2 linked regions of the Homo sapiens genome follow. Each later gene encodes a partner of the first gene's protein in a complex. Each region holds a gene or a part of one and is shown on either strand. Other genes may lie near its edges. The genes, in order: ZNF541 and DNTTIP1.

Region 1 (15,364 bases):
CCACAGAGCGAGACTCCATCTCAAAAATAAATAAATAAATAAATAAAATAAAATAAATAATAGAAAAATAGATGGATAGAGCACTAGAGCATCACTATCCAAAAGCACTTTCTGTGCTACTAAGCCTGCACTGCCCAATACTGCAGTCTTTAGCCACATACACAGAAATGCAGCTAACACCCTTGAGGAACTAAACTCTTTATTTTATTTAAGTTTAGTTAAATTTATTTATTTATTTATTTATTTAGAGACAGAGTCTCACTGTGTCACCCAGGCTGGAGTGTAGTGGTGCAATCTCAGTTCACTGCAACCTCCACCTCCTGGGCTCAAGTGATTCTCCTGCCTCAGCCTCCTGAGTAGCTGGGGATTACAGGCGCCCGCCATCATGCCCAGCTAATTTTTGTATTTTTAGTAGAGATGGGGTTTCACCATGTTGGCTAAGCTGGGTCTCGAACTCCTTACCTCAAATGATCCGCCCTCCTCGGCTTCCCAAAGCGCTGGGATTACAGGCGTGCGCCACCGCGCCTGGCCAGTTAAATTTAAACAGGTACAAGCGGCTAATGGCTACCATATCAGATGGTGCAAATCTAGGGATTTCTCATTCAAGTTAGGCTTTCCAACTTCTATTTAAAAATGTGAAAGAAAAAATCAGAAGATCTGCCAATGCTGAGTCCACATTCCTGCAAGGCAACAATTGGTTGGAGGTGAGAAGCCCCCACCACTCCCTATTCTCTCAGCTCACTGATTTCTGTGCCCTGCCAGGCCTCTGGAGGCATCTGAGTTTATGACCCTCCAAATGAAACCCTCCAAACTCAGGCTTAAATGTCACCTCCACTATAGAGAACACTTCCAACATAACAAAGTCTGAGATTAATTTCTCCCTCCTCTGAACCCTGACAAGCACTTGTGTAACAATCCACTTAACATTTACTCTAAATTATCTAGGAAGTTAATTATCTTTAAAGTTCTCCCATTTTCTCCAGACTCTCAGCTCTAGGATGGCTGGGACTCGGCCTTAGGTGTCTAAACTTCTCACAGTATCTTGCCTAGCACAGAACTTTGATCACAGAAGGCTCTGAGCATCCTTTTCATTCATGAGTGACAGAATTCCATTGTGCCACCTCTTTTCCTCTTTGAAAAGCTCCAACCACTGTTCTGCCACCACACCCCCCACCTCCTAAGCACCACCTTCTCCCTTCTCTCCCTGCATCCATGTTACCAGGGAAAGGGTCATCAAGTCTGAGTAACAGCAGGTTCCTGGGAGTTGAGCAGACAGACTTGCAGCTTTCACCCTAGCTATGCAATTTCCTTCATTTTATTTTATTTTATTTTTTGAGACAGGGTCTTACTCTGTCGCCCAGACTGGAGTGCAGTGGCGTGATCTCGGCTCACTGAACCTCCACCTCGCGGATTCAAGCGATTCTCCCATCTCAGCCACCCGAGTAGCTGGGTTTACAAGCATGTGCCACCACACCTGGCTAATTTTTGTATTTTTAATAGAGACAGGGTTTTGCCATGTTGGCCAGGCTGGCCTCGACCTCCTGCCGTCAAGCAATCCACCTGCCTCAGCCTCCCAAAGTGCTGGTATTACAGGTGCAAGCCACTGCACCCGGCCTGCAATTTCCTTCCTTACTTTCCTACTCCAATTTTTTTTGTTTTCCTGAGTTGAAGTCTCTCTCTGTCACTCAGGCTGGAGTGCAATGGCGTGGCCTTGGCTCATTGCAACCTCCGCCTCCTGGGTTCAAGTGATTTTCCTCCTCAACCTTCCGAGTAGCTGGGACTACAGGTGCACACCACCACACTGGGCTAATTTTTGTATTTTTAGTAGAGACGAGGTTTCACTATGTTGGCCAGGCTGGTCTCAAACTCCTGACCTCGTGATCCACCCACCTCGGCCTCTCAAAATGCTAGGATTACAGGCGTGAGCCACTGTGCCCAGCCTCCACTCCAAATATTATTGTAAACTATAGACCCATTTTGTTTGGCCTACACAGTATTTTTACAAATTGGATTAGTCATCAACATTTTTTTTTAATGGGGAGATTTCACCTTCCTATATGGATTTCTGGTTTCTTTTGAAAATGATTAGATTTGATATTCCTTCACAGTTAACAACGAGGTAGATCTGAGGGACAAATGGCATCTCTAGAAAGGGCTTATGGTCTCCAGTTTTCCCAGCCCTCACTTATCTTCCTGCCTGGCCCTTATAATATTCATCATTGTAATAATAATAATAATAATAACAGTGAACATTTATTGAGGCTTTATGACATGCCAGGTACTCTTGTAATCACTTGTATGTCATCGTATTTAATTCCCACAATACTTGAGGCATATACTGTATTATTAACCCTATTTCACCAATGAGGTAAATAGTCCAGAGAAGTTGAGTAACTTGCCCAAAACCAAGCTAGGATTCAACCCTGGGTAGTCTAATTTCGAAACCCTTACGCTTGCCCGCTCCACTATGCTTTTATCACACACTTGAGACTGGGACTCCTGCTTCACACTCGTGCCTACATTCTTAAGTAGAACAATCAAGAAAGACTTCCAGCTGGGCAAGGTCATTCTCGCCTGTAATCCCAGCACTTTCTGAGGCCTAGGTAGGAAGATTGCTTGAGTCCAGGAGTTCAAGACCAGCCCGGGCAACAAAGTGAGATCCCCGCCGCCCCCCACCCATCTCTACAAAAAAAATCAAAAATTAGCCAGGTGTGGTGGTGCACACCTGTGGTCCCAGCTACTCGGGAGACTGAAGCAGAAGGATTGCTTGATGTTGGGAGGTCGAGGCTCCAGTGAGCCAGGATCACACCACGGCACTCCAGCCTGGGCAAACAGCGAAACCCTGTCTCAAGAAAAGAAAGGAGAAAAGAAAAGAGCAAAACAAAGCACAAAGACTCCCTCCTATAGTCTTATAGTTATGTAACCAATAACTAATTTTAACCAGAAGGTAAAGTCATTTTCTCTGGCCGGGCACGGTGGCTCACGACTCTAATTCCAGCACTTTGGGAGGCTGAGGCGGGCAGATCACAAGGTCAGGAGATCGAGACCATCCTGGCTAACACGGTGAAATCCTGTCTGTACTAAAAATACAAAAAATTAGCCAGGAGTGGTAGCGGGTGCCTGTTGTCCCAGCTACTCGGGAGGCTGAGGCAGGAGAATGGTGTGAACCCAGGAGGTAGAGCTTGCAGCAAGCCGAGATCACTCCACTGCACTCCAGCCTGGGCGACAGAGCGAGACTCCATCTCCAAAAAAAAAAAAGTCCATTTTGGCTGGGCGTGGTGGTTCATGCCTGTAATCCCAGCACTTTGGGAGGCTGACGCAGGCAGATCACTGGAGGCCAGGAGTTTGAGACCGCCTTGCCAACATGGTGAAAACCCGTCTCTACTAAAAATACAAAAATTAGCCGGGCATGGTGGTGGGCACCTGTAATCCCAGGTACTCAGGAGGCTGAGGCATGAGAATCACTTGAACCTGGGAGGTAGAGTTTGCAGTGAGCTGAGATAGTGCCAATGCACTCCAGTCTGGGCGACAGAGCAAGACTCTGTCCTAAAAAAAAAAAAAAAAAAAAAAAAGCGCATTTTGTTTTTTTGTTTATATATAATGGGTTTATTACTGCCCTTTTAAAATCAATTAATAAACATTTTGAAAGTTGATTAGTTTAAACTTCTAATACAGCAAATGCCAGTAGATAAAGTTTACATAAACAAAAATTCTCTACAGCCTTCAATAATTTTTAAGTGCAAAGGGGTCTTAAGAGCAAAAGTTTTAAATTAGCTGGGCGTGGTGGTGCACGCCTGCAGTCCCAGCTACTTGGGAGGCTGAGGCAGGAGAATTGCTTGAACCCAGGAGGCAGAGGTTGCAGTGAGCCGAGATCGCACCACTGCACTCCAGCCTGGGAAACAGAGAGAGACTCCATCTCAAAAAGAAAAAAAAAAAAAAAGTTTGAGAACTACTATTCCAATAAGAAAAAGTCCTGCATGTCCACATACACATGTGCCCAAGCAGACACGCATCTAAAAGAAAGAAACCCGAAACTGAAAATTCCAAAGTGGTGGCCGGCAGGCATATTTTATAAGTTCCCTATGCTGTCTTTTTTTTTTTTGAGACGGAGTCTCGCTCTGTTGCCCAGGTTGGAGTGCAGTGGTGCAATCTCGGCTCACCACAACCTCCGCCTCCCAGGTTCAAGCGATTCTCATGCTTCAGCCTTCCCAGTAGCTGGGACTACAGGCGCCTGCCACCACATCCAACTAATTTTTTGTATTTTTAGTAGAGACAGGGTTTTACTATATTGGCCAGGCTGGTCTCAAACTCCTCAGCCGCCTCGGCCTCCCAAAGTGCTGGGATTACAGGCATGAGCCACTGCGCCCAGCCTACGCTGTCTTATTTAATTCTTAAATTATCAAATGTGTTGCTAGCATTTAAAAATCAGAAGGTTTCACCTAAGGATAGTTTTCTGGCCTCTTCTCAAAGAAATCGAAAGTTCTGGCAACACTGGCCTGGCATTTCCACTGCCTGGCATCACTTAGATGGGACATACAATCTTTGCTTCACGACAATCCTTACTTCTTCCCTTTACCTGTGCCTTACCTGTAAGTATCTGAGTTGCCACCCTGAGCTAGGGAAGGAAAAACGTTTTTTGCAATAAACATCAATAAAGAAACACACATCAATCTATGTCTGCACTCCTCCTAACAGGTCAACATGCACAATAAATAGCCCTTTTCCCTGTTTGACTTCTCCAAAGCAGTAACTTGTATGATTACCATTAGTACGGACTTTGGTATTGCTTAGAAACCCTCTTGAGAAAGAACGAGATCTATCCAACAAAGCAGGTGTCTTTGGCTCAGTGCAAAGGAAGGAAACTCACCAGAAGAGCAAGTTAGTGAATCTCCAGGGAACAGGAGGACCCAGTTTAGGCCCCACAGGGAGGGGGTTCAGGTGACAAGCAGACCACTGGATATGTCCTCCTGGAACACTGAGTGGTAAATGCAGGATACTCCCAATTTCTTTTGCCCTGAAAGCAGGTGGTGGGAAGGAAGAAGCAGTCAGGACTTGGGTCCCAAAGAAACAAGAACAGAGATGTGAAAATGGAGAAGAGCAACAATTTTTGGAAGAAGGCAGAAAGCAGTATCAACAGCGGAGATTTGAGTGAGGAGGAAAGGTTTTTTTGGTAAGAAGAAATAATTGTTCCTTCTTTCCTTATTTTTCCCCCGTGGGAAGAGACCTAGAGAATTTTACCGGGAGAAACTTAATTAGGGCAGAATTGGTGATAAAATAAGGATATTTGCTGGAAAGTTGGGGGTAGGTGAGGAGGACTGGAAACATAAATATTAGACGAGAGAGAAACTGGAAGGAATTAGTTGGTTTGTTCTAAGCGAAGATATTCCAAAAAGGGGCACTCTAGGTGTGAAGAAAAAAATTTTGCTGGAAAGTGATCCTGAACGGATGAAAAAAAACTGGGTTAATTTTTTTTCTTTTTTTGCGCTAAGGGAAGTTACTTAAAGGAGGGGGAGGGGCATGTCAAGGAAAGGAGGAGAGATTTGGAGTTTTGCTGGAAGATCCTAAAAAGGGATAAATCTGGGTGCCCCAAAGTGGGACTATGGAGGAGGAAGGGGGATTCTGAGCAGAAGGGGCCTGGAAGAGGCTAGCGAATGCAAGGCCCAGATGCAGAAGGTGGGGAGGTCGGGTAGGGCCCGCGGCGCGAGCTGGGGGGCTGCGAGGGGGCAGTTGAGGCCCGGGGGGACGGAGTGGGAAAGAAAAGGGGGTGCAGCGGGCCAGGGGATCCTGAGGAGGGTCTTCTCCAAGGGGGAAGGGCCTGTGGGGTGCAGCGGGGCCCGGAGCTGTTGGGTTGCAGAAGATGCGTGCGTGACGCAGGGTGAGGGGCGCCCGCCGCGCCTGCTGCGCCCCTCGAAAGGCAGATGGGGCCCCCTAAAAAAAGAAATCAAGAAACGAATGAGATTGTAAAAAGGGGGAGGGGTTGAAAAAAGAGGAAATAATAGTAATGGGGGATAAGGAGGAAAGGGAGGGGCAGGGGCAGCAGCAACCGGGTTTTACCCGCCCCCGGGGGCTCGCGCGCCGGGCCTCGCGCCTGGCGCCTCGCGGGGCTCCCAGCGGCCTCCCGCCTTCCCCGCGCCGCCCGGGGCGCACGCGCAGCCCGGCCCACCCCCGGATCTCCTCGCTCACGCGCGGCGCAGGCGCGCGTACGTGACCGCGGGCCGCCTCACGCCTCCCAGAGCGGCCTCGCGCGTGCCTCCTGGCCGCGCGCTCTCGGCTGCTTCTCCGAGGGGCGGGGCTTGCCGCGGGCGGGAAAGGAGGCGGTTGGTCGCCATTTTGGGAGGGGGCGGTTGAGGGCGGAGAGTGAGAAGAGTGAGCCGGGGAGGAGCGGCGGGGGGAGGGGCCAGTCCCCCAAGACCCGCATCCCGAGGCCGAGAGTCCCGGGAGCCTCCACTCCAGCCATTGTTCCTGGTGGGCGGTGTTAGAACGCGGTGGCGGCCGCTGGATGGCTGCCCCCAGTCCCCGGAGGGGCCTCTGAGCAGCGTCCTGGTGCTGGGAGGCCGTATCGTCTGTTTCCGAGGACCCTGTCGCGAGCGCGGGAGTCTCTCAGGGTCTCTTCTGCGTCATTGGGTGGGGGAGATGTGGGGCGAGCTGCTCCTCCCTTTTTTTAAAATTTTTTTCAGAGACAGGGTCTCTCCCTGTTCCCCAGGCTGCGATCACGGCTGCCGCACCCTCCCCTTCCTGGGCTCAGGCGATCCTCCTGCCTCAGTCTCTTGAGTAGCAGCGACCACAGGCGGGCGCCGCCACACCTTGCTAATTTTTACATTTTTTTTAGAGATAAGGTCTCGCCATGTTGCCCAGGCTAGCCTGGTTCCCCTGGGCTCAAGCGATCCTCCTGCCTCAGTCTCCCAAAGCATTGGGATTATAGGTGAGAGCCACCGCGCCCAGCCTATTCCTCCCTTCTTTGGGGAAAGGCTGAGCCATCTGGGGCCCCTGCTCCGTGCTGAGCTGTGTTGGGAAGGGCGGTAGGCCCTGGTGCCGACTGGCCAAGGACCATCTTTTTTTTCTTTTTTTTTTTTTTTGAGACAGGGTCTTGTTCTGCCGCCCAGGCTGGAGTTCAGTGGTGCGATCTCGGCTCACTGCAATCTCCGCCTCCCGGGTTAAAGCGATTCTCCTGTCTCAGCCTCCCGAGTAGCTGGGATTACAGGCACGTGCCACCACGCCCGGCTAATTTGTTGTATTTTCAGTAGAGACGGGGTTTCACCATGTTGGCCAGGCTGGTCTTAAATTCCTGACCTCGGGTGATCAGGTGATCCGCCTGCTTCTGCCTCCCAAAGTGCTGGGATTACAGACCTGAGCCACCGTGCCCGACCTGGCCAAGGGGTTTGAACTGTCCTGCAACTGAGGCAGATAATTCATTCCTTAGAAACGGAGTGCTGAAGATCTGTGGAGAATGAGAGCAGATTAGTGGTTGCCCGGGGTGGAAAGGGGCATCGCGGATCTTATCTGGGTAATGGAAATATTCTAAAACTGAGCTATGGGCCAGGCGTGGTGGCTCACGCCTGTAATCCCAGCTCTTTGGGAGGCCAAGGTAGGAGGATCCCTTGAGCCTAGGAGTTTGAGACCAACCTGGGCAACCTAGTGAAACCCTGTCTCTAAAAAAAAAAAAAAAAAAAAATTAACTGGAGATGGTGGCATGCGCCTGTAGTCCCAGCTACTTGGGAGGCTGAGGCAGGAGGATCGCTTGAGCCTGGGAGTCCAAGGCTGCAGTGAGCTATATGATCAGGCCATTGCACCCCAGACTGGGGGATAGAGCGAGACTCTGATGGGGGAAAAAAAGGGTTATGGTGATGGTTGCACAACTCAGTAAATTTCTAAAAATCAGTAAGTATACACTTAAGTGAGTGACTTTTATGTAAATTATACCTCAAAGTTTTTTTTTTTTTTAATTGATTATTGGGGGAGGAAACAGAGGAAAGAAGAGGGCCTGTCATCTTGCTTTAGGATCCCTTCATTTAGCAAGTTTTTATTGGGTCTCTGTTCTAGGTGCTCAGATATAGTGTCTGGGTCAAACAGACATTCCTCTCCTCCTGGAACTTATGTTTTAGAGCAGTGCTGTTCAGTAGTAATAAAATGCAAACTTCAAGCACCAGCCACTTATGTAATTTTACATTTTCTAGTAGCCATGTTTAAAAGGAACAAAATGTAAAGAAGGCAGGTGTGGCGGCTGGCACTTGTAGCCCAGCTACTTGTGAGGCTGAGACAGGAGGATCACTTGAACCCAAGAGTTGGAGACTGCAGTGAGCTATGGCCCTGTCTGTGTAGAGCCACTGCACCAGCCTGGGCAACATAGTGGGACCCATTCTCTTAAAAAAAAAAAAAAATGGCTTGGGACGGGTGTGGTGGTTCACACCTGTAATCTCAACACTTTGAGAGGCTGAGGCAGGAGGATTGCTTGAGTTCAGGAGGTCAAGACCAGCCTGGGCAACACACCCAAACCTAAAAATCAAATAAATAAAAGTAAATAATAAAATAAAAGAGAAAGAAACACAAGTGAAATTAATTTGGTAATATTTAATCCCAAATATTTCAACACATTATCAGTATAAAAACTAAGAGATAATTTACACTTTTGGGGCTGTCTTTAAAACCCCACATATACAGTATTTTACATTCACGGGACATCTCAATTCAGACCAGCCACATTTCCAGGGCTCCATGGAACCTTGTAGCGAGTGGCTCTGGTACTGACAGCATACCTCTACAGGGGGACAAGCAAATGCATTTACTTTTTTTGTTGTATTTTTTTGATACAGGGTCTCACTATGTCACCTAGGCTGAAGTGCATTGTTGTAATCATGCCTCGCTGCATCCTTGACTTCCTGGGCCCAAGCTATTATACCACCTCAGCCTCCTGAGTAGCTGGTACTACAGGCCTGCACCACCACACCCAGCTAATTTTTTGTATTTTTAGTAGAGACAGGGTTTTGCCATGTTGGCCAGGCTGGTTTTGAACTCCTAGGCTCAAGCAGTCTTCCTGCCTTGGCCTCCCAACATGCTGGGATTACAGGAGTGAGCCACCGTGCCTGGCTGCAAATACATTTATAATGCAGTATGTTATACCTTGAAGAAAAACAAAGGAAAGAGGATGGGGTCAGAGGGTATTGTTTTATACAGGTCAGTAAAGGCTTCTCTGGTGAGATTGCATTGAGCAGAGATCTGAAGGAAGTAAGGAAGGGTCCTATGAAAATATCTGGGGGAAGAAGAGAGGGAACAGCACGTGCACAGGCACTGAGGCAGGAAGATGTGGAACCCTTTTGAAAGACAGCAGAGAGGCCAGGCATGGTGGCTTATGCTTGTAATCCCAGCAATTTGGGGGGCCCAGGTAGGCTGATCACTTGAGCCCAGGAGTTCGAGACCAGCCTGGCCAACATGTTGAAACCCCATCTCTACTAAAAATACAAAAAATTATCTGGGCATGGTGGTGCACACCTGTAGTCCCAGCTACTCGGGAGGCTGAGGCATGAGAATCTCTTGAACCTGGGAGGCAGCGGTTGCAGTGAGCCGAGATCACGCCATTGTGCTCCATCCTTGGTAACAGAGTGAGACTCTGTCTCAAAAAAAAAAAAAAAATCAGAAGAAGAGAGACCAGTGTGGCCAGAACCACGTGAGTGAAGAAACTAGGGGCAGATGGCATAGGGACTTACAGGTCATGCTAAGGCAGGAATTAAACTCCTGGAAACAATTTCAGAGGGTTCTTCCTTTATTTAGCACACTTTTTGTTTTGTGGGGTTTTTTGTTTGTTTCTTTTATTTTCTTTCTTTTTTTCTTTTTTCTTTTTCTTCTTTTTTTTCTTTTGAGACAGAGTCGCGCTCTGTAACCCAGGCTGGAGTGCAGTGGCACCATCTCGGCTCAATGCAACCTCTGTCTCCTGGGTTCAAGTGATTCTCCTGCCTCAGCCTTCTAAGTACCTGGGATTACAGGCTCGTGCCACCACGCCCAGCTAATTTTTTGTATTTTTAGTAGAGACGGGGTTCCACCATGTTAGCCAGGATGGTCTCCATCTCCTGACCTCGTGATCCACCCGCCTCAGCTCCCAAAGTGCTAGGATTACAGGTGAGAGCCACTGTGCCTGGCCTTCTTTTCTTTTTCTTGTTTTCTTTTTTTTTTTCGCTTATTTAGCACACATTTTAAAAATGCTTTGTTTCAGCCATGTAATCTCTCTTCTTGATGGAGGAAATAAGGATCCTAGCCACTGGACAGATGAGAATCTAGTTAAAAAACAGGACTTAAGCTCCTGAAATAAATTAGCATCTTCTGTCATTGATAGACATTGAACACTTCATGGACACAGAAGATAAATGCAACACATAAACAAAAAATTAGCATTAGCCAAGCATGCTTGTAATCCCAGCACTTTGGGAGGCCAAGGCAGGTGGATCACCTGAGGTCAGGAGTTCGAGACCAGCCTGGCCAACATGGTGAAACGTCCATCTCCACTAAAAATACAAAACTTAGCCAGGTGTGCTGGTGCGTGCCTGTAATCCCAGCTACGCAGGAAGTTGAGACAGGAGAATTGCTTGAACCTGGGAGGTTGAGTCTGCAGTGAGCCGAGATCGCACCATTGCACTCCAGGCTGGGCAACAGAGCGAGACTCTGTCTCAAATAAAAAAAAGCATTTAGCATTTATTTTAAAGGCCTACAAATTAAGGTGACAACCTAATAAAAAAAAAGAATATAAGATTTGAAGAGGCACTTCATACAAGAGGAAACATGAAGTGAGGACTAACCACAACAACAAGAGAATGCAAATTAAAACCAAAGATACCGCAGCACACCTACCACTTCGGTGAATCAAAAAACATTTTTTTTTTTCTGTTTGCTGAAGCAAGACGAACTGAGTATACAGGACTAGTGACAGGTAAAATTGGTAGAACCACACTGACAAACCCAGGGGTTAACTCTAGAAAACTTCTTGATCATGTGCGCCAAGAGATGCAACAGAAGAACAAGCAGCAATGTTTGTAATAGCAAAAAAAAGAACAGAAAAGAAAGGAAAGAAACAGATTGGATCCTGGATTCTGGATTGAATAATCCTGGAACAAGATAAATAAATAAATAAATAAATAGGCCAGGCATGGTGGCTCACGCCTGTAATCCCAGCCCTGTGGGAGGCCGAGGCAGGTGGATAACTTGAGGTCGAGAATTTGAGACCATCCTGGTCAACATGGTGAAACCCCATCTCTACTAAAAATATAAAAATTAGCTGGGCATGGTGGTAGGCACCTGTAATCCAGCTAAGGCTTAGGAGGCTGAGGCAGGAGAATCGCTTGAATTTGGGAGGTGGAAGTTGCTGTCAGTGAGCTGAGATGGTGCCACTGCACTCCAGCCTGGGAAACAGAGTGACAGTGACTTCATCTAAAAAAAAAAAAAAAGACATTACTTAAAAAACTAGAGAAATCTCCAACAAAGGCCAGGCATCTGTAATTCCAGCACTTTGGGACCCCAAGGCAGGAGGATCACTTGAGCTCAGGAGTTCAAGACCACCCTGGGCAACTTGGTGAGATCCTGTCTCTACGAAAAAATTTTAAAAGTTACCCAAGCATAGTAGCACACACCTGTGGTCCCAGCTACTCCACAGGCTAAGGCGAGAGGATTGCTTTAGCTCAGGACTGCATTCCTATCTGGTTAACAGAGCAAGACTGTCTCAAAAAAAAAAAAGAAAAAATCTCAACAAAGATTGGAATTTAGTTAATAGTAATGTATCCACTTTTTGGGGTTTTTTTTTTTTTTTGAGACAGAGTCTCGCTCTGTCGCCCAGGCTGGAGTGCAGTGGCGCAATCTCAGCTTGCTGTAAGCTCCGCCTCCCGGGTTCACGCCATTCTCCTGCCTCAGCCTCCCGAGTAGCTGGGACTACAGGCGCCCGACACCACGCCCAGCTAATTTTTGTATTTTTAGTAGATGGGGTTTCACCGTGTTAGTCAAGATGGTCTCGATCTCCTGACCTCGTGATCTGCCGGCCTCGGCCTCCCAAATGCTGGGATTACAGGCGTGAGCCACCACGCCCAGCCTTTTTTTTTTTTGAGATGGAGTCTGGCTCTGTCTCCCAGGCTGCAGTGCAATAGCATGATCTTGACTCACTGCAACCACCGCCTCCCAGGTTCTGCCTCAGCCTCCAGAGTAGCTGGGATTACAGGCGCCCGTCACCACACCCAACTAATTTTTATACTTTTAGTAGAGACGGAGTTTCACCATGTTGGCCAGGGTGGTCTAGAACTCATCCTGACCTCAGGTGATCCGCCCGCCTCAGCCTCCCAAAGTGCTGAAATTACAGGCATGAACCATTGCACCCCGCCTGTTTTGTGTGTGTGTGTTTTTTTTTTTTTTTTTTTTGAGACAGGGTCTCATTCTGTCGCCCAGGCTGCAGTGCAGTGGTGCCATCTGGGCTCACTGCAATCTCCGCCTCCCAGGTTCAAGCCATTCTCCTGCCTCACCCTCCTGAGTAGCTGGGACTACAGAAGTGCACCACCATGCCTGGCTTATACATTTTTTATTTTTTGGTAGTGACGGGGTTTCACTGTGTTAGCCAGGCTGGTCTCAAACTCCTGGCCTCAGGTGAGCCGCCTGCCTCGGCCTTCCAAAGTATGAGGATTTTAGGCATGAGCCACCGAGCCTGGCCAATGTTTTTGTAGTTTTGACAAATGTATAGTTGTGTCACTTAACAACGGAGATCTGTCTGAGAGATGTATCTTCAGGTGATTTTTTCCTTGTTGCGTGAACGTCGTAAGCTGTACAAACCCAGATGGTATAGCCTAGCACACAGCTAGGCTGTATGGTGTAGCCTATTGTTCCTAGGCTACAAACATGCAGCATGCAACTGTACTGAATACTGTAGGCAGCTGAAACACAAAGGTAAGTATTTGTGCATCAAAACATAGAAAGGTACAGTAGACCAGGCGTGGTGGCTCATGCCTGTAATCCCAGCACTTTGGAGGCCGAGGCAGGTGGATCACCTGAGGTCAGGAGTTCGACACCAGCCTGGACAACATGGTAAAACCCCATCTCTACTTAAAATACAAAAATTAGCCAGGTGTGGTGGCAGGCACCTGTAATCCCAGCTACTTGGGAGGCTGAGGCAGGAGAATCACTTGAACCTGGGAGGCGGAGGCTGCAGTGAGCCGAGACCTCGCCACTGTACTCCAGCCTAGGCGATAGAGCGAGAGTCCATCTCAAACAAAAAAGAAAAGAAAAGAAAAGAAAAAAGAAAAGGTACAGTAAAAATACAGTATTATAATCTTACAGGACCTCTGTCATATGTGTAGTTCTTATTGGCCAAAACGTTGTTATGTGGCACATGACTGTCCTGTGATAAAGTAAGATGCCAACATCAGGGAAAGGGTGAGGGGGATGTGGTAACTCTTTGTACCATCTTTCCAAGTTTCCAGTAAATTTAAAATTACTCCAAAATAAAAAGTTTAGGGTGAAAAAAGAAGGAAAGGAAATGAAAATGTCCACCTATAGGAGACTGGATAAATCGTGGTATAGTTATTCAATGGAGTATTATGCAGCAGTGAAAATGAGTCAATTTCCATTACACACAGCAACACAGATGTGCTCCCATTTACATATAACATTTCAACAGGGTGTGGTGAATCGTGTCTGTAATCCCAGCACTTTGGGAGGCCGAGCCAGGAGGCATCACTTGAGGCCAGGAGTTCAAGACCAGCCTGGACCACATGGCAAGAAAAATTAAAAATAAACTGGGCATGGTGGCGTGATCTGCCTGTAGTTCCAGCTTCTCAGGAGGCAGAGGTGAGAGGAACACTTGAGCCCTGGAGGTCGAGGTTGCAGTGAGCCATGATCCCACCGCTGCACTCCAGCCTGGGCAACACAGTGAGACTCTGTCTCAAAAATAAATATCATTTCAAAACACAGGCAAAGCTAAACAATAAGCAGTTTAGGGACATAGATAGAATTATTATTTTTTTTAAAGTAAGGGAGCCAGGCATGGTGGCACACACCTGTGGTCCCAGATACTCGGGAGGCTGAGGCAGGAGGATCACTTGGGACCAGGAGTTCTGGGCTGTAGTACACTATGCCAATGCAGGGTCCACGCTAAGTTTGGCATCAGTTTGGTGGCCTCCTGAGAGCGGGGGATCACCAGGTTGCCTAAGGAGGGGTGAACTGGCCCATGTTGGAAATGGAGCAGGTCAAAACTCCTGTGTTAATCACTGGTGGGATCATGCCTGTGCATAGCCACTGCACTCCATCCTGGGCAACATAGCAAGACCCTATCTCTTAAAAAAAGAAAAAACTAGCCAGATGTGGTGGCATGTGCCTATAGTCCCAGCTACTCAGGAGGCTGAGGTGGGAGGATCGCATGAGCCCAGGAGTCCGAGGTTGCAGTGAACTATGATTGTACCACTGGACTCCAGCCTGGTCTACAAAATGTGACCTTATCTCTCATAAACAAAACAAAACAAAATAAAATGGAAGCCCCTGAGAAGCTAAGGGAAAAGATGCTCTTCAGAAGGAGAGGGGTACACCCTGGCCGCAGGTTCCTCTTCTCTGCCAACCTTTTCCTGTTGTCTCCATCTATTCACTTTGTTCAGCATTGCTTTCTGTGATTTGTCTTTTGAATCACGTCCTTCAAGCATTCTCACACTCCTCACTCCTCTCGGCCTCTAAAGGACTCACCTGGCCAAACTCCAGCCATCCTCTTCTCTGTGCCAGCCGAGCCCAGCAGAAGGAAACCACCCAGCCAGCCCAACGGGTTTTACCTGAATCAGAGAAATCACAGGCCTCAGACAGGCGCAGGGCACTCTCTATGTGTCTCTGGTGTGCTTACATTTCCCCCCTGCCCTCCAGCCCATGACTAGGTCCCACACTTCCCTGTGCACATAGAAGCCATCAGAAGGGAACCCCCTTGTCATCTGTCCCTGTGATTCCCTCTCTCAAGGATTGGGGTCTCCCTCCCTCCTTCCTTCCTTCCTTCTTTCCTTCCTTCCTTCCTTCCTTCCCTGCCTCCCGCCCTTCCTTCCTTCCTTCTCTCCCTCCCTCCCTGCCTTCCTTCCTTCCTTCTTCCCTTCCACCTCCCTCCTTCTCTCCCTCTTTCCTCTTCCATTGAAGTTTCTCCTCCTCTCCTCCTCCTCCCCCCTCCTCCTCTTCCTCCTCCTTTTCCTCCTCCCCTCCTCCTCCTCTTCCTCTGCCTGTCCTCCTCCTCCCCTCCTCTTCATCCTCCCCTTGTCCTCCTCCTCTTCCTTTCCCCCTCCTCCTCCTCTTCCTTCCCCCTCCTCCTCCCCTCCTCCTTCCCTCCTCTTCCTCTCCTCCTCCTCTTCCTCCTGCCCTCCCCCCTCTTTCTCCTCCCTCC
Region 2 (14,782 bases), on another chromosome or scaffold:
CTTGGAAGCCAATTCAGCCGCTCATAATTCACACATTTATATCTCAGTCCAGAGTTACATTCACCGTTACCCAGTTCCAATCCACTCTTCTCACAGCAGCCAGACTGATCTCCGTAAAGATGAATTAGATCATGTCACTCCCCATTTTAAAAACCCTTCAGTGACTTTCCTGTTGCAGGGAGAATAAAGTCTTAATGCCTTACCATGATCCTGCTGGGAAAACTGGCTAGCCATATGTAGAAAGCCGAAACTGGATCCCTTCCTTACACCTTATACAAAAATTAATTCAAGATGGATTAAAGACTTAAATGTTAGACCTAAAACCATAAAAACCCTAGAAGAAAACCTAGGCAATACCATTCAGGACATAGGCATGGGCAAGGACTTCATGACTAAAACACCAAAAGGAATGGCAACAAAAGCCAAAATTGACAAATGGGATCTAATTAAACTAAAGAGCTTCTGCACAGCAAAAGAAATGACCATCAGAGTGAACAGGCAACCTACAGAATGGGAGAAAATTTTTGCAATCTACTCATCTGACAAAGGGCTAATACCCAGAATCTACAATGAACTCTAACAAATTTACAAGAAAAAAACAAGCAACCCCATCAACAAGTGGCCAAAGGACATGAACAGACACTCCTCAAAAGAAGACATTTATGCAGCCAAAAGACACATGAAAAAATGCTCATCATCACTGGCCATCAGAGAAATGCAAATCAAAACCACAATGAGATACCATCTTACACCAGTTAGAATGGTGATCATTAAAAAGTCAGGAAACAACAGGTGCTGGAGAGGATGTGGAGAAATAGGAACACTTTTACACTGTTGGTGGGACCGTAAACTAGTTCAACCATTGTGGAAGTCAGTGTGGCGATTCCTCAGGGATCTAGAACTAGAAATACCATTTGACCCAGCCATCCCATTACTGGGTATATACCCAAAGGAATATAAATCATGCTGCTATAAAGACACATGCACACATATGTTTATTGTGGCACTATTCACAATAGCAAAGACTTGGAACCAACCCAAATGTCCAACAATGATAGACTGGATTAAGAAAATGTGGCACATATATACCATGGAATACTATGCAGCCATAAAAAGTGATGAGTTCATGTCCTTTTTAGGGACATGGATGAAGCTGGAAACCATCATTCTCAGCAAACTATCACAAGGACAAAAAACCAAACACCGCATGTTCTCACTCATGGGTGGGAATTGAACAATGAGAACACATGGACACAGGAAAGGGAACATCAGACACCGGGGCCTGTCGTGGGGTTGGGGGAGGGGGGAGGGATAGCATTAGGAGATATACCTAATGTTAAATGACGAGTTACTGGGTGCAGCACACCAACAAGGCACATGTATACATATGTAACAAACCTGCATGTTGTGCACATGTACCCTAAAACTTAAAGTATAATTTAAAAAAAAATGCCTTACCATGACCCACAGAGCCTACCCTCGACTGGCTTCTGCCTGCTTCTTTAACTTCATTTCATCTCACCTCTTTTTTATTGACTATACTCTGGCTGTTCTGAACTCCTTTCTGCTCCTCCAGCACAAGCTTAGGCCATTTCACTTGCTGTTCTTAGTACCTGGGGTACTCTACCCTTAACTCTATAAAGCCGGCTCCTTCTTTTCTTCAGATCTTAGTTTAAATATCAGAGAGGTCTTCCCCTCGCACTCCTACCTCTGCTAAAATCTTGAGCTTTACAAGAGTTGAGGCCTAATCTTGTTCACCACTGTATTCCCAGCCCTGGAATATGACTCTTAGTATGTGTACAGAGTTTGCTGAATTATTGAGTAAATGAAGGAACAAACAAATGATAAATGAACAAACAAGCTTCCTGCTCTAATAGAACTTAACAGCCTACTTAAGCAGACAGGTGTGAATTAGATTACCAACAAATGTGTGCATAATTACACATTGAGACTTGATCACCCTTCACTGGAAAGGGACAAAGTTTGGAGGAGAAGAGCATGAATCCAATTATGGATTAGCAGCTTTGAGCCATCCAAGCATAGACATGGGGCAGACTATTTGGTATATAAGTCTAGAGCTCAGAGGATAACCTTTTGTCTACAGTTGAATTATGGAATCGTGGTTTATAGATGTTAATTGAAGCTGTGAGAATAGGTGAGAGCAGATAGAATATGTAATGAGAGAGGATAGGGAAAAGAACCAGATTGAGAAGGAAAAGCCAGCAAAGAAGGCTAAGAAAGAACGGCCAGAGAAGTAGAAGGAACACAGGAAGTGTGGCCACAGGAGCCTGTAGAAAAGAGTGTTTCCAGAAGGGGGAGCCCTCAGCACTGTCAAATGCCACTGGCAGAGGTCGGGTGAACCCAATTCTCCACCTGCTGCACCATCTCCCCTCTGCCCATTCCATCCTTTTCTTTGTCAAATGAGCCAGGTGTTCCCACCTTTGAGCTTCTGCACTCCTCCCTGCTGCTGAAACACTTCTGCCCAGCTTTTTTTACAGCCTCCTTCACATCTCAACTCAGAGGCCACCTTCTGAGCAAGGCCTTCCCTGGCCATTCCCGCAAAGTAGCCCTTCCCCTCTGGTGGTTCTCTGTCACATCTGCCTGGGTTTTTTTCTTTTTTTCTCACAGCATCTATCATGATCCACAGTTACCTTGTTTGTTTCTGTGCTTATTATCCAGATCACCCACAAACTATAAGCTCCACAAGAGCTTGTCCTAGTTACTGCTGTGTCCACAGCACTTAGGTCCCAGGTACTCAGTATTTATTAAAAGAAAAACAGCAGGCCAGGCGCACTGGCTCACGCCTGTAATCCCAACACTTTGGGAGGCTGAGGCGGGCAGATCACGAGGTCAGAAGTGTGAGACTAGCCTAGCCAACGTGATAAAACCCCATCTCTACTAAAAATACCAAAAAAAAAAAAAAAAAAAATTAGCTGGGTGTGGTTGCACGCCTGTAATCCCAGCTACTCAGGAGGCAGAGGCAGGAGAATTGCTTGAACCTGGGAGGCGGAGATTGCAGACAGCCGAGATCGCACCACTGTACTCCAGTCTGGGCAACAGAGCAAGATTCCATGTCAAAAAAAAAAAGAAAAAAGAAAAACAGCAGCTTACTGAGGAGTATGTGTTATACTAATGTATTTAGTTTGAAAAAACATACAGTATGTATTTACATGGGAAAAGCAAGGAAGAATTTACATTGAAACATTAATAGTAGTTTATGTAATGAGATTCCAGGTTTTTCTTATTTTGCTTTTTTACATTTTTTAATTTTTCCAGCCATGATCATTAATTCAAGTTTTTTTAAAAATAGATATCTATTTCTATGCATATAAATATATATATGTGTGTGGCTGGGCGTGGTGGCTCATGCCTGTAATCGCAGCACTTTGGGAGGCCAAGGCAGGTGGATCACCTGAGGTTAAGAGTTCGAGACCAGCCTGGCCAACATGGTGAAACCCCGTTTCTAATAAAAATACAAAAATTAGCTGGGCATGGTGGTGGGCACCTGTAATCTCAGCTGCCTGGGAGGCTGAGGCAGGAGAATCGCTTGAACCCAGGAGGCGGAGGTTGCAGTGAGCTGAGATAGCACCACTGCACTCCAGCCTGGGCGACAAGAGTGAAACTCCATCTCAATTTAAAAAAAAAAAAAAAATATATATATATATATATATATATATATATATATATATATATATATATATATATATATATATTTGGAAGTGGGCCGATCACTTGAGGTCAGGAGTTCAAGACCAGCCTGTCCAACATGGTGAAATCCCGTCTCTTCCAAAAATACAAAAATTAGCTGGGTATGGTGGCGCACCCCTGTAGTCCCAGCTACTTTGGAGGCTGAGGCATGAGAATCACTTGAACCCAGGAGATGGAGGTTGCAGAGAGCCAAGATGGTGCTGCTGCACTCCAGCCTGAGCAACAGAGCAAGACTCTGTCTCCAAAAAAAAAAAAGGAAGTAGGTAGGGTGTGCTTACCCACCAAAATAGTGACTGGTAACACTTGGTCTTTTTCCCTTCAGGCTAAACTGCTCTTTTCAGATGGAGAAAAAGTAATACCCAGATTGACCCATGAGCTTCCAGGAATAAAGGTCAGAGTCACTGTGTTCTCGGGTATTGGAGCGGGAGGTCCTTCAGGCTGGGAGGCAAGTGAAATATGTGGGCCCAGGGAGGTTCCATGTACTTCCATTTGTAGGACCAGGCCCACACAGCATCATGCTGGATGGGCTTCTTTGGCCTGGGTCAGAGCGGGGCTGGAGAGCTGTAGTCCAGGGCTGTCTTCTGCAACTCCAGAAGACCTGCAGCTCCCAGGCACTGGCCTTCCACTGACTCCCTTCCCTTTTCTTTTAGCGTGGCCGTCAGGCAGAAGAAGAATGTGCCCATCGAGGAAGCCCCCTTCCTAAAAAGGTAAACCATTTCCTTGTTTTGTTTTCTGGCTGAAAAAAGGCTTGTCAGGCCGGGTGTGGTGGCTCACACCTGTAATCCCAACACTTTGGGAGGCCAAGCGGGGAGGATCACTTGAGCTCAGGAGTTTTGAGACCAGTCTGGGTAACATAGTGAGACCCTGTCTCTAAAATAAAAAAAAAATTAGCCAGGCATGCTGGCACATTTCTGTCGTCCTAGCTACATGAGAGGCTGCAGTGGGAGGATCACCTGAGCCCAGGAGTTCAAGGCTGTAGTGAGCTATGATCATGCCACTGCACTCCAGGCTGAGTAACAGAGTAAGACCCTGTCTCTCAAAAAAGGCTCTTCACTCCGCAAGGTACTGGGCTTCCTCAAAGCCCTTTTGAGCCTTCCTAGACATGAGAGGCAGTTTTTCTCCCTGTCCCTGTCAAACATCATTTGATCTCTTTGGAAAACCATCTCTGCCAAGTGACCCTGGACCTGCCAATGGGGTATGGGGAGTAACCACAGGGTCAGACCTCTGACAGCTGTTTTTTGTGGCAGAGGAAAGGACGGCCTCCTGGACACATCCTGTCAAGCGACCGGGCAGCCGCCGGCATGGTGTGAGTAGGGACCAACAGTGTGGTGAGAGCATAGGGGAGCAGACGGAGAGAGGGGCCCTGAAGGAAAAGAGTCCAGGGTTCTGTGCCTGTCAAAATCAGATCCATCAGCTTAAGTCATCGTGGAGGGGGGTTATCCTGGTTGGAGGGGTGAGGAAGGAGGGTAGTGAGGAGGAAATTGTTTTACCCCCTGAACGGTTTGGCCCAGCTTGATGAAAGATTAAACTCCAGAGGTTTGTCATTGTTAGTATATATTGGATGCTTATGACTGGTCTAAATACGTTACATACTTTACCTTTTAATCTTTATAGCCACCCTGTAAAGAAGATATCATTAATTTTTCAGATAACAGACTCAGAGAATTACTTGCCTAATGTCATATCGTTAACATTGCCTCCAAGACGGTCATTTTCAAATATATATTTTTTTAAGACTTAATTTTTTTAGAGCAGTTTTAGGTTCACAGCAAAATTGAGAGGAAGGTACAGACATATCCCGTATACTCCCTGACCCTACACATGCACAGCCTCCCCCATTATCGACATCAGGCACCAGAGTGGTACATTTGTTACATTTGATGAGCCTACTTTGACTCGTCTTGATCCTCAGAGTGCATAGTTTCCATGAGGGTTCACTCTTGGTATTGTACATGAACTTAGACAAATGCATAGTGACAGGCATCCACCATTCTAGTATCACACTGAGTGCTTTCAGTGCCCTAAAAATCCTCTGTGTTCTGCCTGTTCATCCTTCCTTCCCCCTCAACCAACCCCCAACCCCACTTTTTAAAAAAAATTCTGAAGCAGCAGAATCTTTTTCAAACAAAACTTTACATGGGAGCCCAGTATTTAAATCAAATAAAGCCACACTGGTCTGGTTCAGGGGCGTGGGGTTAGTTTGGAACAGCTGGCTTAGTAGATGGGCTAGTATTAACTGTCATACCTTAGATGTGTCTCCTACACGAAGCAGTTTTATTCCTCACAAACACAAGATAGGTAGGGCAGTTGCTGTTTTTGTCTCTTTTGACAGATGAGAAAACTGCCACTCAGAGGTTCTTGGAGTTGCTCATGCCACTATGTAAGAGCAGAGCTAGTGCTAGAATGGCTTCTAGTCCAGTGCTTTTTTTCCCTTTGTTCCTCCTCTTATGTGTCACCACGAAGGAGGATGTCCAGGGCTAAAGTGAGAGTGTGTGAGGAACTCCTACCACCACCAGCAAGCTGGCATTTAGTCCTAGGTCTCACCTTGGAGAATTCACCTTTATTCTTTCCTTCCAAGCAGATGGAAACCAAAATCCTGTGAACCAATTCGCCGGGAAGGCCCCAAGGTATGATTATGTGAGCATGGCAGAGATCACGATCCCAGGAGATAGTCCCACTATCTCTAGGACCCACCATGAGGGAAAGGGGCAGGGGGCGAAGGGTGCATGCACACCATTCCAGAGCCATCTGCCCCTCTCCACCTCCAGCCACACTGGCCTCAGAGAGGATCCTGTGTAGGAATTGGAGTTAGAGGCAAAACAAAGAGAGGGCTTGAGTCTTTGCTGAAGCCTTCTCCTTATAGGAGTTAGTGGTCACTAATACTGATTCAATACTTAGTATGTAACGGGCAGTGTCCTAAATCTTTTGTGTAGACCATCTCATTTAATCTTTATAACAAACTTATGAGATCAATTCTGTGAACCATTCTATAAATGAGGCGTTTCCTTTTCTGCCAGCTTCCCTGTGGGCATAAATTATTTTATTCAGTTGTCTTATACACTTAATGCACTTAAGACTTGCCCAAAGTCACATAACTCGTAAGTGATCGAGCTGAGTCTCAAACCCAAGACCCGCTGACACCAGAGTCTGTGCTCTCAACCATTAGCCTCTGTTGCCTCCCTCTCTCTCCTGAGTTCTTCCTCAGCAGTGACTTATATAAATGGTTGTTCCCCAGAATTCTCTCCTTGGCCCACTTCTCCATCTAAAGTAACTCTCTGGATAATCTAAAACATATACTCTTATGGTTTCAGGGACCACCATGTTCTAAAACTCCCATACCTCTTTGTCCATCCCATGCCTCTTTCTACTTTAAAACTTGTTTATCCTACTATCTGCTTGACCACTCTGCTGGAAGTTTCATAGGCATTTCAGACTCAGCATATCCAAACATGAAATTAGAATCTTTCCTCACAGCCCTTCTTTACATTCGTTATCTTAATCATCTTTGCCTCCTCCTCCTCTTCCTTACCTCCCTACACCCAGTCGAGTCCTGGACAATTCTTCCTCTTAAATATATTGCAGTTCCTATTTCCTTCTGTTCATCCTTACTGCTGCCCTAGCTCAGGCCCTTAGCAGCTTTCCAACTGCTTTATCACAGCGGCCTCTAAACTGCTCTCCCTGCCTGTAGTCTTGCCCCTTCAAATCCATTATCCACATTGCTAGAAGACTAAGCTATCTTTAAAGGAAATCTGACTCTCACTCCCTGTTTAGAGGCCTTCAGCGATTCCCCATTGCCTACAGAAGAAATAAAATGCAGTCCCCTGAACATAACCTCCTAAGACCTCCAACTCCTCTGTGTTTCTCTCTCCAGCCCCATCAGCTGCCACTCCCTAATTTGTACTCTCTCTGTTAGCAGCACAGAATTACTAGTAGTTTCTCCAGCAGGCCAAGCTGCCTCTCACCTGTCTTTGCTCATGCTGCCCCCTGTCTGGAATGCCCTTGTTCCTGACCCCCTTTACCCCAACTTGTGCTCACCCTTTCAGAATTAACTTGGGAAATGCCTCTCTAAGGAAGCCTTCCTGGCTGGACCCTCCCCTCGGCAGCCCTCAGACCCTGCACTCACTTGTGTCCTTGCCTCATCGCACAATGGTGTAATTATCTGTACATATGTTGGTGGCATCCTAGAAAACAGAGACTGTATCTTATTCATCTCTTTATCCCCAGTATCTAGCACAGACAGGGCCTAGCATATTGTGAGTACTCAGTGTCTTGGGTCAACTGTTGATTAAATAATAGACAAGGGGAAGGGTTAGAAAAGGGTAGGGGGAGGAGTGTTTCTGTCCTACCCATCAGATTAAACTTCACCCTCACGAGCTTCTCTATTTTTTGCACAGTGGGACCCAGCTCGCCTGAATGAATCTACCACCTTTGTGTTGGGATCTCGAGCCAACAAGTAAGTTTAAGAGCTTTGGCACTGATTGAGGAAACAGCTCAGGAGTTCACTAGTAGGACTACACTTTCTGGAATCTTGACCACTTGGCTTTTACTTTTCAGAGCCCTGGGGATGGGGGGCACCAGAGGAAGAATCTACATCAAGCACCCACACCTCTTTAAGGTAGGTGACTGCTGGGAGGAAAGCAGGCCATTGCATTGGGAGTAGACTGGGAACTCCACTCAGCACAGAGAAGCTTAGAACAAACACTGATCTTGGAGTCAGGACATCTGGGTTCTAGTTGTGCCTCTGCCATTCACCTTTCCCTTTCATGATTTACTCAACACCTCTGTGCCTCAGTAATAACAGCTACTTTGCTTGCATGCTTACTGGGTGCCAAACACAGTTTTAAATCCCACACTTATATTATCTTAAAAAATAAGTATTGCCATCCTTATTTCACAAATTTGAAACAATCAGAGGTTGAGAAAGGCTGAGTGACTTGCCCACAGTTATTCAGCTAGAAATGGTGAGTCAGGATTCAAATCCAGGTCTGTCCTCACCAAAGCCTGAGCTCTTAACCACTACCATATTTGGTTGTCTGTAAATTAGAGTTTGGGCCAGGTGCGTGAGCTCACACCTGTAATCCCAGCACTTTGGGAGGCCAAGGCGGGTGGATCACCTGAAGTTGGGAGTTCGAGACCAGCCTGACCAACATGGAGAAACCCTGTCTCTACTAAAAATACAAAATTAGCTGGCATGGTGGCTCATGCCTATAATTCCAGCTACTCAGGAGGCTGAGGCAGGAGAATCGCTTGAACCCAGGAGGCGGAGGTTGTGGTGAGCCGAGATCACACTGCCCTCATATTTGCATTTTAAAATAACTCTGGGGTCTGGCACAGTGGCTCACGCCTGTAATCCCAGCACTTTGGGAGGCTGAGGCTGGCGGATCACCTGAAGTCGGGAGTTCGAGACCAGCCTGACCAACATGGAGAAACCCCGTCTCTACTAAAAATACAAAAATTAGCTGGGCATGATGGCGCATGCCTGTTATCCCAGCTATTCAGGAGGCTGAGGCAGGAGAATCGCTTAAACCCAGGAGGCAGAGGTTGCAGTGAGCCAAGATCTCACCATTGCACTCCAGCCTGGGCAACAGAGCAAAACTCCATCTCAAAAAAAAAAAAATAGAGTTTGGAGCAAGGCAGGGTCCTGTGCCTTTTCAAAGAGGGTACTCCTCTTCTGAGAGCAGCTATGTTTTGGTCCCCACTGTTTGAGGGAATAATGGAGGAAATCATAAACTCACTCACCCTCTTAGATGATTTTGTATTTTATCAGTCACGAGAGCATCGAAGTAGATTAGAAGAATAGCAGTGCATGTGTGTTCCACACATGGTTTTTTGCACTTATACGTAAGGCTTGGCACCTCTTGCCAGAACTGCACAGCCCTGTGGGATCCCAGAATCACGGGCTTTCTCTACCACATTCTGTGCAAGTTTTCAAGTTCTTTGAAAGGCATACCTGCTCACGCTTCTTCTCCAGTCTGATATCCTCGAGTCCCAACACTTAAACAGTTTGCCCAGTGGCTCCTTTGTTTTCCTCTCTTAATGTCGTCACTCTTGCTATTCCCATTGCCTGGGTGGCCTTTCTCTCCCACCCTTATCTGCCTGACTATTCTTTAAGATCCACCTCCTCCAAGAGCTTTGTTTGTATCATCCCCAAAATCAATATGCTTTTGGACCTACTTTGAATTCCCACTTCAGCGTGGTTTAAAGTATGGCTTCAGGCCTGGTTCCATTATTTTACTAGCTGCATGAACTTGAACAAATGGCTCCACATTTGTTTTTCTTTTTTCTTTTTTTTTAACTAGCTCAAGTCTGGGAATTGATCCACATTTCTGAGTCTGTTTTTGTCCTGTATAAAATGAGAATAGTGATAGACCAACCATTTTTTTTTTTCTGAGACGGAGTCTTGCTCTGTCACCCAGGCTGGAGTGCAGTGGCGCGATCTCAGCTCACCGCATCCTCCACCTCCTGGGTTCAAGCAATTGTCTGCCTCAGCCTCCCGAGTAGCTGGGATTACAGGTGCCCACCACCATGCCCGGCTAATTTTTGTATTTTTAGTAGAGATGGGGTTTCACCATCTTGGCCAGGCTGCTCTCAAACTCCTGAGCTCAGATGATCCACAGCCTCAGCCTCCCAAAGTGCTGGAATTATAGACTTGAGCCACTGCACCTGGCCCAACTTTACAAATTCTCTATTAGTGATTATAAGTATCTTTTCAGTCATTTAGAATCTATTTGTATTTCTTCTGTAAGCTGCCTGTTATATCTTTTGCCCATTTTTCTCTCCTTCAGAAGGCATTATTCAAATTCTTTTCCTTTTTTAAATGTTTTGATTATAGAAATAATATATAAACCCATTCCCGTGGTAAAAAGATTCAGACGATACACAGGAGGTAGTAGAGAGCAAAACACAGTTTCTCAGCCAGGTGCAGTGACTCACGCCTGTAATCCCAGCACTTTGGGAGCCCGAGGCAGGCGGGTCACCTGAGGTCAGGAGTTCAAGGCCAGCCTGGCCAACATGGTGAAACCCCATCTCTACTAAAAGTACAAAAATTAGCCGGGCATGGTGGTGCACTCCTGTAGTCCTAGCTACTCTACTCGGGAGGCTGAGGCAGGAGAATTGCCTAAACCCAGGAGGCAGAGGTTTCAGTGAGCCGAGATCACGCCACTGCACTCCAACCTGGGCGACAGAGCAATACTCTGTCTCAAAAAATATATATATCAGTTTCTCTTCACTCCTCGATTTTTTTTTTAAGGTGCTTAAATTCTGGTTTCTAGGTGCCCAACCTAGAATAGAAACCAGAATTTAAGCCTTATTTGGGTTGAGCACAGTAGCTCATACCTGTAATCCCAACACTTTGGGAGACTGAGTGGGTGGATCAGTTGAGGCCAGGAGTTCAAAACCAGCCTGGCCAACATGGCAAAACCCCATCTCTACTAAAAATACAAAAATCAGCTGGGTGTGTTGGCACGTGCCTGTAATCCCAGCTATTCAAGGCTGAAGCAGAAGAATAGCTTGAACCCAGGAGGTGGAGGTTGCGGTGAGCCAAGATCATGCCACTGCACTCTAGTCTGAACAACAGAGCGAGACGTCATCTCAATAAATAAATAAACAGCCAGGCACGGTGGCTCACACCTGTAATCCCAGCACTTTGGGAGCCCGAGGTGGGCAGATCACCTGAGGTCGGGAGTTCAAGACCAGCCTGACCAACATGGAGAAATCCCATCTCTACTAAAAATACAAAATTAGCCGGGCGTGGTGGCGCATGCCTGTAGTGCCAGCTACTTGGGAGGCTGAGGCAGGAGAATCGCTTGAACCCAGGAGGCGGAGGTTGTGATGAAGCAAGATCATGCCATTGCACTCCAGCCTGGGCAACAAGAGTGAAACTCCGTCTCAATCGATCAATCAATCAATCAATCAATAAACCAACCAACCTTATTTGTAACTCCAAAACCGAATTCTTAACCATGATGCTATTATGCGTCCGAGAGTACATGAGGTGTCCCGATTTTTGTTTTATTATGGTCACCATAATAATTACAGACGTTATAAGCCACCTCCGATCATTTTTTAAAAAGAGGAAGCTCTAAAATAATAGTTATCAGTCCCACCAGTTGCCCGGGGTGCTTTGTTGTGAGAAGGGGGTGGGGATTGGGAGTATACTAAGTCTCTGGGAATTGGGTCCCATGGTCTGCCCTCGGGGTTGGCTTAGCTTTCTCTGAAGAGATTAGTGAGCCCTCTAAGTCCACCACGCTTGGAGACAAGGACTTTTGGTAAGAACTGCTCAAGGGCCAAGAGTATGCTCTGGGACCAAATGAGAAAAGCCCCTTACCCGAGGCTAATTTTCTTACAACTTCATTCCTTACAGTATGCAGCTGACCCCCAGGATAAGCACTGGCTGGCTGAGCAGCATCACATGCGGGCAACAGGGGGCAAGATGGTAAGCATTATTCATTTGTGCCACTGCCAGTGACCCACCCCACCTGGGAACCAGGATTTTGGCTGTGGGTGACAGCCTACCTCCAAATCTGACTTCCAAAGCCTCACCAATGTGTGAGAAGAGAGACTTATAAGGCCTATTTCTTCATGCTGAAGAGCAAATTGTAATCTTCAGGTTCCCTTCCCTATCCCTAGGTCTCCCTTCCGCCCCCTCACACTTTTACCTCATGCCTCCAAGATCACATATTTGGATACTATTAGCTGTCCATAGGAATAGCAGGTATAAGACACACAGTACTACTTTTTCCCACTACTGCACCCACTGACAGATTTCACTCATTGATCACTCTTCCACCAGACACAGCTATAGAATCTTTTCTCAACACAGTACTTGAGGCAGCAACCCTTGTCAGTAGGAGTTAGCAATGAAATGTGTTTGCACACTTGGCAGCCCCTTCCAGATTTACCTCTACTTGAAGAGTTCTCAGATCATATGAAACAGCAACCTTAGGAAAATCATCATTGCATGTGTTCAAAAACTATTGTTGAGGGCTTTGTCCATCACACACAATGTCCCCCACCTGAGGACTCACTCACTCCCACCACAGGTACTGCTCCTTTTAGAATCTAAGTGCCTTACAAACTGATATGCCATCTCCTTTCTGGCAGTGAGAGCTACCTTTTATTTTATTTTACTACTCTATTTATGCCTATGCTTTACTTCAAAAAAGATTTCAGGTAAGCTTCATGCACATAAAATGCAACATTACATAAATAAGAAATAGATGGTAGGGGGTGGGGGCAGGACCTAAAATTAAGCCACCAGTAAAAGTAGTTCTTTAAAAAAAAAAAGTGTTTTTTATATTGCTGACCTGGGAGACCTGTGCACTTCTACAGATGTTGGCAAATTCAGCTGTAGGCCCCACTCATGGACACCTGATCTGTTATGGTTCATAGTGCCCATAAGATGTAGACAAATTACTCAAGGAATACACAATTATTCCTGACCCTAACATTAGAAAGTCTCCCACAGAAGACTTTCTAATATGATGAATATCTCTTCCTATATGTTAAGTTCACAAAAGGGCCCTCACCCACTGTAGACCGAGGCATTGTGACAAAGCATTTCTACAGGCCCCAGTACAATACAGGCCAATTACTAGACAGCAGAGCAGTTTATCATGTTTTCCATTTTGCCACAAAGTTCAAAACCAAGTTATCTTTGTCCTCAGAGGGAGCACATGGTTTCCTCTTCCTGATTTCCTGTTTCCATATATATTTTGCTGGCTTTCTTGCCATTTTGTTATAACCCACCTTGGGTCCTTTCGTATACTTGATCTTAACCAAAAGGTGTAGGAGCAATGGTGGATCCCTTTTTTTTTCTTTTTTTCTTTTTTTTTTTTTTTTCTTAATTTTCACCACACCATTCAAGAGAGAAATGGGTCCTTTTTTAAAAGAGAAGGCTATAAATAAGTCACCAGTCCCTACTCTCCCATCCATGAAGCATCTACTGTAGTAAAAGATTGTCTCAAGGAACCATTCCCATCCCTCCCCACTTACTCTTCCGTACTAAATTGTAAACCGCATCCCCCGCTTCCACCTAGTAGCAGGCCTTACATTAAACAGATGTTTAATGAAGTGTTACTGAGTTGGAGTGAAATGAATCAGGCAATGACCACTCTCCCTTGCTCCTGCCTCAGGCCTACCTCCTCATCGAGGAGGACATCCGGGACCTTGCGGCCAGTGATGATTACAGGTAAAACCAGTGGGTCTCCTGCCCCTTCTCCTCTCCCTGCCTCCAAATAGCCCCTAGAATGAGGCAGGGCCTACATCCTCACTTCCCCCAACTTCTCTCTTCAATGTCTGTTCCAGAGGATGCCTGGATCTGAAGCTAGAGGAATTGAAATCCTTTGTCCTACCCTCCTGGATGGTGGAGAAGATGAGAAAGTATATGGAGACACTACGGACAGAGAATGAGCATCGTGCTGTTGAAGCACCTCCACAGACCTGAGGCCGGGTCCCCTGGCCACACTTGGCAGCCCTCCTCCAAAGCCCTCTTCCTCACGTGGCTGAGGCCACCGCTGGGACTGCTCCTAGATGGATCTCAGCGGCATTAAGCTGTGCCTGAGCGAGTTTGTAGTGACTCACTGCACAGCACCCCCAGACTAGCATGTGGTTCTATATTTGTAAAGTTATTGGGATAAGAAACAATTAAACAGTTTGTAGTAAACACAGATGGTGAACCTGCTGTGCCCTCTACCTTGTGGGAATTGACAGAACATCAAGGGCTCTAGAAGTGGGTGTAGGAAAAAAGGACGAGATAACCCTCACCCATAACAGTATAGAGCCAGGCTTGATAAGACCAACCTGGGAGCACCATGTACCCTGCCCGTCTTCCCTTTGCCCATTTGTAGTTTCCTTACCCAGCTAATGTAAGGACATGGCAGAATGCGATGGAGTTTGATGACAGATCATATGAAAAATAGAGTTGGCTTTTATTGCTCCCATTTTACAGGTTAAGATACTAAAGGACCCGCCCCAAGGTTACACACTACCCACTGGGGAGGTAGGATATACAGGATATGAACCTGTGTTGTTGGGGTTTTTGTTTGTTTGAAGACAGTCTTGCTCTGTTGCCCAG

The links.
Region 2: ZNF541 (region 1) and DNTTIP1 share a complex: the UniProt entries of both Homo sapiens proteins name them as parts of the histone deacetylase complex.

What each region holds. Positions count from the first base shown.
Region 1 is NC_000019.10:47,567,029-47,582,392, forward strand, and holds the start of ZNF541 (zinc finger protein 541), read right to left. Parts: upstream 6,121-15,364; 5' UTR 6,055-6,120; intron 6,005-6,054; exon of another isoform or gene 5,015-6,004; 5' UTR 4,868-5,014; intron 2,755-4,867; exon of another isoform or gene 2,726-2,754; intron 1-2,725. UniProt on the Homo sapiens protein: Transcription regulator which is essential for male fertility and for the completion of meiotic prophase in spermatocytes.
Region 2 is NC_000020.11:45,797,044-45,811,825, forward strand, and holds the end of DNTTIP1 (deoxynucleotidyltransferase terminal-interacting protein 1), read left to right. Parts: intron 1-4,030; coding exon 4,031-4,099; intron 4,100-4,358; coding exon 4,359-4,415; intron 4,416-4,955; coding exon 4,956-5,014; intron 5,015-6,289; coding exon 6,290-6,335; intron 6,336-8,102; coding exon 8,103-8,161; intron 8,162-8,262; coding exon 8,263-8,323; intron 8,324-12,070; coding exon 12,071-12,142; intron 12,143-13,841; coding exon 13,842-13,897; intron 13,898-14,013; coding exon 14,014-14,152; 3' UTR 14,153-14,375; downstream 14,376-14,782. UniProt on the Homo sapiens protein: Increases DNTT terminal deoxynucleotidyltransferase activity (in vitro). Also acts as a transcriptional regulator, binding to the consensus sequence 5'-GNTGCATG-3' following an AT-tract.